3 linked regions of the Homo sapiens genome follow. The protein of the gene in region 1 purifies or fractionates together with the protein of each later gene. This does not show direct contact. Each region holds a gene or a part of one and is shown on either strand. Other genes may lie near its edges.

The links.
Region 2: the proteins of TARS2 (region 1) and KLK8 purify together in Homo sapiens (co-immunoprecipitation; one large-scale study listed by IntAct). This does not show direct contact.
Region 3: the proteins of TARS2 (region 1) and CETN1 purify together in Homo sapiens (co-immunoprecipitation; one large-scale study listed by IntAct). This does not show direct contact.

The regions. Positions count from the first base shown.
Region 1 is NC_000001.11:150,493,856-150,497,503, forward strand, and holds part of TARS2 (threonine--tRNA ligase, mitochondrial), read left to right. Parts: intron 1-2,626; coding exon 2,627-2,773; intron 2,774-2,954; coding exon 2,955-3,053; intron 3,054-3,648. UniProt on the Homo sapiens protein: Catalyzes the attachment of threonine to tRNA(Thr) in a two-step reaction: threonine is first activated by ATP to form Thr-AMP and then transferred to the acceptor end of tRNA(Thr). Also edits incorrectly charged tRNA(Thr) via its editing domain.
Region 2 is NC_000019.10:50,999,437-51,003,184, forward strand, and holds the start of KLK8 (kallikrein-8 isoform 1 preproprotein), read right to left. Parts: upstream 2,169-3,748; 5' UTR 2,096-2,168; intron 1,740-2,095; 5' UTR 1,732-1,739; coding exon 1,662-1,731; intron 1,283-1,661; coding exon of another isoform or gene 1,148-1,282; coding exon 988-1,147; intron 823-987; coding exon 560-822; intron 1-559. Other genes in the region: KLK9 (kallikrein-9 precursor), read right to left, coding at 3,675-3,748. UniProt on the Homo sapiens protein: Serine protease which is capable of degrading a number of proteins such as casein, fibrinogen, kininogen, fibronectin and collagen type IV. Also cleaves L1CAM in response to increased neural activity.
Region 3 is NC_000018.10:578,811-582,558, reverse strand, and holds CETN1 (centrin-1), read right to left. Parts: upstream 2,180-3,748; 5' UTR 2,151-2,179; coding exon 1,632-2,150; 3' UTR 445-1,631; downstream 1-444. UniProt on the Homo sapiens protein: Plays a fundamental role in microtubule-organizing center structure and function. Plays a role in sperm cilia formation.

The sequences.
Region 1 (3,648 bases):
GCAAAAAGCTCTGAACTTAGACTGGGCATGGTGGCTCATGCCTATAATCCCAGCACTTTGGGAGGCCAAGGTGGGTGGATCACTTGAGATCAGCCTGGCCAACATGGCAAAACCCCATGGCGCGGTGGCCTTGGGTAAATCTTACTTATTTTCCCCATCTATAAAATGAGGCTATTAATTCCTTTTTGTCCTACCAGTAAATTCACCTCATAAAGATAATGAAAACCAGGCCAGGCATGGTGGCTCACACCTGTAATCCCAGCACTTTGGGGAGGGTGAGGCAGGCGGATCACTTGAGGTCAGGAGTTCGAGACCAGCCTGGCCAACATGGTGAAACCCTGTCTCTACTAAAAATACACAAATTAGCTGGGTGTGCTGGCCTACGCCTGTAATCCCAGCTACAAAAAAGGCTGAGGCAGGAGAGTCACTTGAACTCTGCCAGGAGGCAGAGGTTGCAGTGAGCTGAGATTGTGCCACTGCATTCCAGCCTGGGCCACGGAGCGAGACAACATCTCAAAAAAAAAAAAAAAAAAAAAGATAATGAAAACCAACTAATTCAGGAAAAAGGAAAAGTTAAAAAGTGCTGTAAAATACAGACTGTCGGCCAGGTGCGGTGGTTCACACGTGTAATCCCAACACTTTGGGAGGCCAAGTTGGGCGGATCACTTGAGCTCAGGAGTTCAAGACCAGCCTGGCCAACATGGTGAAACCTCGTCACTACTAAAAATAAAAAATTAGCTGGGCGTGGTGGCATGCACCTGTAGTCCCAGCTACTCGGGAGGCTGAGGCAGGAGAATTGCTTGAACTGGGAGGCAGAGGTTGCAGTGAGCCAAGATTGCACCACTGCACTCCAGCCTGGGCAACAGAGTGAGACTCTGTTTCAAAAAATATACATATAGGGGCTGGGCGTGGTGGCTCACGCCTGTAATCCTAACACTTTGGGAGGCTGAGGCGAGTGAATCACGAGGTCCAGAGATCGAGACCATCCTGGCTAACACCGTGAAACCCCGTCTCTACTAAAAATACAAAAAATTAGCCAGGTGTGGCCGGGCGCAGTGGCTCACGCCTGTAATCCCATCACTTTGGGAGGCTGAGGCAGGCGGATCATGAGGTCAGGAGATCGAGACCATCCTGGCTAACACGGTGAAACCCTGTCTACTAAAAATACAAAAAATTAGCTGGGCGAGGTGGCGGGCGCCTGTAGTCCCAGCTACTTGGGAGGCTGAGGCAGGAGAATGGCGTGAACCCTGGGGGGTGGAGCCTGCAGTGAGCCAAGATCACGCCACTGCACTCCAGCCTGGGCGACAGCGAGACTCCGTCTCAAAAAAAGAAAAAAAAAATTAGTCGAGTGTGGTGGTGGTGGCCTGTAGTCCCAGCTACTTGGGAGGCTGAGGCAGGAGAATGGCGTGAACCTGGGAGGCGGAGCTTGCAGTGAGCCGAGATCGCGCCACTGCACTCCAGCCTGGGTGACAGATGTATATACACACACACACACACGTATAGACTGTTTCTCATTAGTACTGTTTAACAGTTTTATTTTATTTCATTTTTATTTTTTTGAGACAGAGTCTTGCTCTGTTGCCCAGGCTGGAGTGCAGTGGCCTGATCTCGGCTCACTGCAACCTCTGCCTGCCAGGTTCAAGCAATTCTCCTGCCTCAGCCTCCTGAGTAGCTGGGTTACAGGCACGTGCCACCACACCTGGCTAATTTTTGTATTTTTAGTACAGACAAGGTTTCACCATGTTGGTCAGGCTGGTCTTGAACTCTTGACCTTGTGATCCACCCACCTCAGCCCCCCAAAGTGCTGGGATTACAGGTGTGAGCCACTGCGCCCGGCCTCTCATTAGTACTTTTTTGTTTGTTTGTTTGTTTGTTATTTTTTGAGATGGAGTCTTGCTCTGTCGCCCAGGCTGGAGTGCAGTGGTGCGATCGCGACTCACTGCTAGCTCCACCTTCCGGGTTCATGCCATTGTCCTGCCTCAGCCTCCCGAGTAGCTGCGACTACAGGCACCCACCACCACACCCAGTTAATTTTTTTGTATTTTTAGTAGAGACGGGGTTTCACCATGTTAGCCAGGATGGTCTCGATCTCCTGACCTCGTGATCCGCCCGCCTCGGCCTCCCAAAGTGCTGGGATTACAGGCGTGAGCCACCGCGCCCGGCTCATTAGTACTGTTAAAGGAGAGAGCAGGCAGAGGCTTTTGGATTTCATGTGGCCAGGAATGGGATATGGTATAGAAGACTGACTTTTCTAGCAGCTGTATAGGATATTGATAAATGGAGGAATAGACTGACATTTGACCAGAGCTTATGGTTATTCCTCTAAGCAGTCATTGATTAGAATGGGAAGGAACTAAGTAAAGGGGTAATGAGAATGGGGAGAAAAAGAGATGGCAAGGTAAGGTTAGGCCTGACCAGGTTGTATGTAGGAATTAAGAGTCAGGCAATTTCAACACTTTAATCTAGAAGAATGGTGTCTAGAGGATGGAGGTGTTCATCCTACTGGTGGGATTGTTGTCAAGAGGCATACCTGTGACACTTAACACTGAGAGTATCATTTGAGTCTTGAAAAAGGTGGGGGCCTTCAGTCCTCATCTTTCCTTTGATCCCCTATGTCCTCACACAGAACTCATCATCCTTATGGAGGTCTTCAGGGGCCCCAGAGACACTGCAGAGAGTGTCAGGGATTTCCTTCCCCACAACAGAATTGCTGAGGGTCTGGGAAGCATGGAGGGAGGAAGCAGAATTGCGGGACCACCGGCGCATTGGGAAGGTACAGGAATTGGGAAGATAGGGAGGGATGGTGATAAGGGTTGGAGAGAGATGACAGAACCTGATTATGAAATTGGGAGCAGATTCAGTCACACAGACTGAGCAGCTCCGTCAGTTGTTCTGAGTTCCAAAGCCACCTCCTTGCCCTTGAGGTGACCCAATATTGCTATTCCTGACCCCAGGAACAGGAGCTCTTCTTCTTCCATGAACTGAGCCCTGGGAGCTGCTTCTTCCTGCCACGAGGGACAAGGGTGTATAATGCACTAGTGGCGTTTATCAGGGTAAGGGGACCCAGGTCTAGAGGAAAGAAGACCAGGGAGGGGCTGAGGGACTAGAAGAAGCTAAGGTGTTTGTGTTAAAAGATGGGGGTTGGGGCCGGGCACAGTGGCTCACATCTATAATCCTAGCACTTTCGGAGGCTGAGCCGTGCAGATCACCTGAGGTCAGGAGTTCGAGACCAGCCTGGCCAACATGGCAAAACCCTGTCTCTACTAAAATAAATACAAAAAATTAGCCAGTGTGGTGGCAGCGCCTGTAGTCCCAGCTACTGGGGAGGCTGAGGCAGGAGAATCCCTTGAACCCAGGAAGGGGAGGTTGCAGTGAACTGAGATTGAGCCACTGCACTCCAGCCTGTGTGATACAGTGAGACTCCGTCTTGAAGAGAAAAAAAAAGGTGGGGGGGCTGGTTTGGAATCATAAACATAAATATTGAAAGTGCTGGTGACCTTTAATACTACAATTGTGTGGTCTGCAGTCGGGGAGCATAGAGATGGGACCTGGTATTTAATAGGTTGTGGTTGCAATCAGCATGGCCTGAGGGCCCAGGAAGATCACACAGCTGACACCCTACCTGCTTTCCTTCCAGTTACTCTGACC
Region 2 (3,748 bases), on another chromosome or scaffold:
CGCGTGGTGGCGGGTGCCTGTAATCCCAGCTACTCGGGAGGCTGAGGTTCGAGAATCGCTTAAACCCAGGAGGCAGAGATTGTAGTGAGCTGAGATTGTGCCACTGCACTCCAGCCTGGGCGATTGAGTGAAACTGTGTCCCCCTGCAAAAAAAAAAAAAAAAAAAAAAAAAAAAAAAAAAAAAAAAAGGAGGGAGGTGGGGGAGAAGGTGCTTAGGAGCCTGTTTTCCTGGGCCTCTGAGAAGTCCAAATATCCCAAGTGTGTTAAGATTATATAAAATCCTATACAACCAAAGGTCCCATAGGGTAGTGCTCTCCGCCATACAGGATGGGCTTTTCTGGCCCTGCTTAACAATCTGCTAGTTGGTTCTTTCTCTCACCACTCTTGTTAGTAGTCAGATCTTCGAGGCTTCTCATATGACTCCTGCTTGTGAATCTCAACATCATGATCACTTTCCCTTCTTTGTCTCCCTCTGGGGGACCAAGCTTTGCCAATAGCTTGGGTTCCACTGGGCCAACCAGCTCCTCCTCTCCCTCCCATTAGTGGACAAGCCCACTACCTCGGGGACTGGTGACAGTGCCCCAGCCTGAGACGGTGCACTTCTGGCCAGGCTGGGTGCAATGATCTGCCAGGCTGATGGGCTTCACTTTGGACCCCAGGGATGCCTGGTCACGCAGTTGAAGAAGCATCAGATCATGGTTGTGGTCCTCCACATCGCTGCTGTTGTAGCAGGGGTGTGGGATGGACTGAACCACAGGTATTTCTTGCTCTGGGCCATCTTTATTCTGTAGGCTGTGGTCTCCCAGGCGTACTGTGTATTTCCTGTAATGGTGGGGATAGTTTGGGACCCAGGCAGGGGTATTGCCCCCAGCCCCCTCCTCCTTCAGACCCAGGAGTCCAGTCCTCAGCTCTCTCCTTCCTGAGTCGAAACCCCAGCCCCCTCTTTCCTTAAGCCCCAGCTGACCTCTGCCCCCATCATCCACTCACGGTTTTTTACAGTGGGCAGCTGTAAGGACCCAGTTGCCACCTACAAGGACACCGCCACAGAGTAGTTGCTGGCCCTGGAACAAGGCCGCCTGCCAAGGCTGCGAATGGGGTTGGCACTCATGACCCCCCAGCACCTTGTCCTCCTGTGCCCTGGAGTGTCCTGCAGCAGGAGGGAGAGGGTTGGATCGCCACCCTCTGGGGCAGTGCGAGGGCTGGGAAGGCCACTGTGGGTTCAAATGGACACACGGCAAGTTCTCCGCATACAACTTAGTGAGGAGGTCCAGGCTTCCACACGCTGCCACACGGGGACACTCATTTCAGTCCATGTGTCATCATACAAGAGTCACACACCCAAGAATGCCCCCACATGCTTCCACATGAGTCTACAGGCCCCGAGTACTCCCAGGTGAATCTATGCCCCCAAGCAAGCAGCCCCCAAAGGCTGTAGCTATTCAGACAATTTACAGCATCACGGAACCTACTCCTACCTGCTGCTACCTGTTTCTTGCCTCTGTCCACCCTGAGGAAAGCCCACAGAGGCTCCTGCACCGTATCGCACTCTTCACATCCGTGCACACGCACCCACATAACCCCCGCGGCATTCCCACAGACTCCCCAGCGCCACTGCTGCCTTCAGATCCCTCCCCTCCGGAGGCCTCCGCAACCCTCCTCACCTGCCCAGGCTCCCCCCAGCAAGAGCAGGAACATCCACGTCTTGGCCGCACGAGGTCGGGGGCGTCCCATGGTGAGGTCTGGGAAATGGAGAGGGCGGGGCCGGTAAACAGGAAGGAGGAGCCTGAGCTCCCAGTTCTGGATTTGGGCACTGGGGAGGCAGCCGAGAGTATCTGGGGCTGTTCTGGGCTTCTCTGGAGGAAGGAGGAGGCTGGGGGACTGGATTCCTACATTCCAAGGGAGGGGGGAGTCCTCGATGTCTGGGTCTGAGGGGACAGGGAGCTGGGAGCTGGGACTCCTAAATTAGGGAGAGGAGGAAGCCGGGGTCCAGACTGCTGGATCTCGACAGAGAAGGGCATCTGAGGCTGGGGTCCTGGAATCTGGAGAAGGAGGGTCCGGGGCCTGATGTCTGTATCTGAGTACCTCTGCACCTCACCTTCCAGAATCCAGGGGCGGGGTCACCTACTGATTCGGACCCAGTGGAGGAGGCCCCAGTACTTCAGTTCTCTGCCTGGTACACGATTCTGGAGCCTTTTAACTGGGAATCTCCACCTCCTGCTCCTCCTCCTTCTCCTCCTGCACTAGAGCCTGGGGAGCTTCTGGGAACTGGAACACTGGGTGTGAGTGAGAAGGGGCGGAGGGGATTGAACGTGAAATCTTGAGGGAGGAGGGGCTGGAATCTCAGACTCCTGAGGCTAGGGAGAGGAGGGACTCGGTGCTGAGACTCTACGATCTGAAACATAAAGGGCTGGGGGCCAAGATTTTAGTTCTGAGAGGGGAGGAGGCTGGGGGCCTGGATTCCTGGGTCTGAGGGAGGAGAGGCTGGGGGCCTGGACTCCTAAATCTAAGGGAGGAGGGACTGGGACCTGGGATTTAGGTCTGACCGAGGAGGGGCTGGGGGCCCAGACTCCTGGGTCTGAGGGAGGAGGGGGCTGCTAGGGGCCAGGACTCCTGGGTCTGAGGGAGGAGGGGCTAGGGGCCTGGATTCCTGGGTGTGAGGGAGGAGAGAGCTGGGGGCTGAATTCTAAGTACTTTTAAAAGGAGAAGCTTGGAACCTGATCTTTTGTGGGAGGAGGGGGCTGCTGCCAGTAACCGGGAACCGAAGAAAGGCAGGTCTTCTAGGGTCAGAAACCAGAGGGTGGATCAGGCCCCGCCCGCTGTCCCCTGAGAGGTCCGGGATCTGGGAGGGCAGGTTTGGGAGGCACTGTGACCTGGTTTCCCCTTCCCCTGGAGGCGGCAAGACCAACCCAAGCAGAACCCAGGAGTCTTGCTGCAATAGGGCTGATGGACAGAGACTTTAGGCAAAACTTACTAGGGGTTTAAGGGGGAGTTGCAAGGCGGTACCGGTTCCCTCATCTGCCCTTCACCGCCCACCCGTTTGCTCTCCACTCATCTCACAGCTCAGGCAGAAAGAAGGTGAGGTTTCCCGCGTTTACTGAAAAATCATCCGTTGCATTGGCTCTAAAGGTATCCAGACCCTCCCTCAATTTCCCCCCAGGTCTCCGCCAGGATTCAAACCCAGCACACGCCCAGGACGGGGCCACAAGGGGCTGAGCTCTACACCGCCCGAGCTCCACGTGGGCGGAGCTACTGCGCCCCTGACATCACGAGGGGCGAGATCTCTGGTGAAGGAGGCGGGGCCACAAGGGGTGGAGTCCCGAGGGGAAGTCCCACTGGGCAAAGTTCCGAGGGGCGGAGCTATTTTGTGTAAGTGGTTCCTTGGGGCGGAGCCACAGGCTGTGCTGTTCCAAGAAGGAGGTGATGGCTGTCGGTGACGTCATAGAGACGGGCTCTGAAGGGCGTGTCCCTGCTCCGTTCCGAGGGGGCGCGACTGTGTCTTGCTTGACCTCGTGAGGGGGCGGAGCCTCAGGGGCGGAGTCTTAGTGTCCAGAGGGGAGTCAGGGCAGCTGGAGGTCCAGGGCGGGAACCATTGAGGCTGGGACCCTACGAGAACCCCCTACCCCGTGCCCTTCGGCCTCTCTTGGTCTTCCAAGGTGCCCCCGTGGCGCGCGGGCTCAGTTCTCCATGATTTCTTGGATCCAGTCAAGGTAGTGGCATACGCTGGTGTAGACTGCGGGGCGCCGGGGTC
Region 3 (3,748 bases), on another chromosome or scaffold:
CCCTGCCCTCAGATCAGGCCCTTCATACTGATGTTGGCCCAAGTTGCACCTGTTCCCATCCTGACTGCACCTTAGTCCACACTAAGACCTTGAACCTGAACTGTTAGCATCTTGCAGCCTGGGTGAGTTCCCCTACCCTGTGCCAGGCACCTCAGCAAAATCCTCACAGTGAATGCTTCCATACCCATCACTTCAGCTAGTACTGCCGCTTTGACAAATTAGTCCCTGTTAATGAGAATTAAGCCCAGGGTAGTTTGTTCCCCTGATTAGATCCACACCCTCTGAAGGGTAAAATTGCTGGCAAAGCAAGTGAAATGTTCCCAGAATTTGAGCATTTATCTTAATGGGGCTTTGTATGAGGATTTAATTTAGGTTTAGTTGTGACCAAAATATCCTGCCTCTTTGTTTTGTTGCCTGTTATTAAAACATTAGTCAAAGCCTCCATCTCAGCAGATCTATTTGTTATTTTCCCACAATTACATTTTTAAAATTTTCTTTAACTTCAGATTTGTAGCTATGCAAAATGATGATATCTTACTCCAAAGCAAAAAATAATTTATAACAGAAAACAAGCAGTATTAACACATAAACAAGCCACAGTGGAGCAGTTTACTGGGATTTGTAAAATAGAGCACTACTGAAATGCCAGACACTCTGACATCAACTATATGTCAGAGGGGCTAAAAGTCAAGTACCAAGAACCAAGATGTTCTAAGGATTAGCAGGGAGAGTGTCTCATAATCAAGCAGTAATAAGATGACTAAGGTTATAATAGTCCAATAACTAAGATATTTGTTGCTATTTCCAAGGACTATAAGTAGCTTAAAATGTTATATTAAGGTATTTGTTATAATTTCCTAAACTAAGATCCTACATTTGTAAATATTTACTCAAAATCGTTTGTTAGCGTAACCTCTTAAGCAAATTATACTTTGCTTGGGCCAGTATTAGATTTTATTTTTATTCTGTAGCCCAGGTATACATACTAGCCCTAGATAAACCCATGGTGGACAATTTACACATGAACGAAGAATCATTTGCAGGTATAAAGCCAGTGAATAGTCAAAATTGCACAACGTACTACCACCCAAGCAAGTCTATTCTTTATAAGATTATCTGTCCTGAGCTCCGTAAGTTTGTAAGTGGCCACCCTGTTTTCCTTCAAACTGGTATTCAGCTAAGTGGACAGGCTAGGCAAATCTACTGGCAGATTCCATCTCATTATGCTGGAACAATGACTGGAATTTAAGGAATGATATATGAAGCAAGATAATTTAAGACCACCAAAGAAGTGACAAAGGGAACCACATTTTTGTGTGTCCCAGAAGCTGTCCTGCCTCCAGATCAACAGATGAACAGCAAGTTCAGCACAGGGCAAATGGAGGGCGCACTCAAACTTCAGGGCCCTTTGTTTAACCTCATGTGCTCCAGGTTGACTCTTGAGAATTAAAACCCAAAACTCACATTACAAGCATCTTTCAAATTCTATTATTGAACTAGAGATATGGAAATAGATCTAGACAAATTATGGGGGTGAGGGGGTGAAGAAGGGACAGGCAGCCGCTGTCCTCTAAGGTTTCACAAAATGGAAGCAGGCAACCCAGAGAGTCACTTTAGCTTCTGAACCGACTTCAGTAAAGGCTGGTCTTCTTCATGATCCGAAGGAACTCCTCCTCGTTCACTTCGCCGTCCCCATCCCGATCAGCTTCGTCGATCATCTCCTGCAGCTCCTCATCCGTGAGGTTCTCCCCCAGCTCGTTGGCCACACGCTTCAGGTTTTTGAACGAGATCTTCCCGGTCTCATCGTCATCAAAGAGCCTGAAGGCCTTCAGGATTTCTTCTTTGGTGTCCTTCTCGGACATCTTCTGCGTCATCACGGCCAGGAAGTCATTGAAGCTGATCTTCCCCGTGCCTTCCCTGTCCACCTCGGAGATCATTTTCTTCATCTCTTCCTTCCTGGGTTCGAAGCCCAGCGCTCTCATGGCCACCTTCAGCTCCTTCGCGTCGATGGTCCCACTTCCGTCCACGTCGAAGAGGTCAAATGCTTCCCGAACTTCTTGCTTCTGATCCTCAGTGAGCTCGGGCTTAGGTGCCACCTTTCTCTTTTGGCCGGTGGAGGCAGCGCTGGGCTTCTTGAAGCCGGAAGCCATCCTGCCGCTCTGGCCGCCGTGGTCCCAACGGCACCGCCCCGCGCTCTCATTCGGGCGCCCCCCGCCGGCGCGGCGCGGGACCACCCCTCGCTCACTGCCAACGCCCACGCCCGCTGGGGCCTGGAGCCGGCCCGGGGAACCTCTTCCTACGCCCTCCCATCTGCGGGATCTTGCTTAGGCGAGAATCCGCTGTCCCCTCGGGTCATTAACCGGTTTCCACGAGTTGACGCCTGAGCTGGCAAGAACAGCCTGTAGCCACAGTTGTCTTCTGTAATCCACTGGCGCTGGCAGTTCTTTCCAAGATATGTGCTAGCATCCATAAGACCCCAGTTTTATAGGTTTCTTTAGGGACTCTTCCTCTCTCTCTCTCTCTCTCTCCTCTCTCTCTTTTGACAGGAGTGCACTGGTGCCACTCAGCTTACTGCAGCCTCCACCTTCCAGGATCAAGTGATCCTCCCACCTCAGCCTCCATAGTAGCTGAGACTACAGGGCATGCCACCACACCCAGCTAAATTAAAAAAAAAAATTTTTTTTTTTATAGAGACAGAGTCTCACCATGTTGCCCAGGCTGGTCTGAAACTCCTGGGATCAAGGGATTTCCCGCCCCAGCCTCCCAAAGTGCTAGAATTACAGGCATGAGCTACCAAGCCGGGCCTCTCCTTTTTATACCATTTAAAAAACCCTCTTGTTCTAGCGGCAACACCCAATGAGGTGACAGGTCCTAAGGGTAAATTTAGGATAATCAAGATTGAGTGTGATCACTTGACATTCAATGTGGGGAAGGAGAAGGAAGAGAGAATATTAAAAGTCATACCATGTGTTCAACTTGACATAAATGGGAAACAGAGAAAATGGAAAAATTTATGTATAAAATGCGTAGAAGTTTGTCTCCTGACATTACACTCAACAATAATACAATGTTTCTGGCATGTTCTCAAATATGAAATGTAATATCCAAATGTATGATTTACTTTCAGTGTTTCCATTTTACATACTCAGTATAATTGCACTTGAATAATGGTCATAATTTCATTCATGAGGCTTTTGATTTGGAGGGAGGGAAGTGGAAATACTACATTCTGGTATATTCTAGTATTTTCTTTTCTCTAACCTCCTAGCAGCACATTACTCTCCTTGCTTATCATCCAATCAGAGCTGTGCTGAAACCCACGCTCTGGTCGCCTTCCTTTGGCAATGGGCACAGGAGATGATGCAGGACATGTTGGGACTCAAAATTGCCTCCTGGGAATAAAGCGGTTCTCCTACAAACCAAAGAGCAAGAGGAAAATGGAAAAGAAAAAAAAAATTACCAAATAAGCCCACCAAGGAATTGCCTGTAGAATTACTTTGCATTCTTTTAAATAGTTACAGAAAAGAAAGCTGACTTATTTTTTTAGCATTCTCCCCCTGCCCCGCCCCCCCGCAATCAAATCTCAATCTATTAATATATCAATACCTTTTGTAACCTATGAAGGTTACAAAAGATGTCACTTTGAAGAGTTTGTGTTAAAGAGTTTTATGGCTGGGTGCAGTGGGTCACACCTGTAATCCCAGTAATTTGGGAGGCCAAGGCGGGAGGATCACCTGAGGTCAGGAGT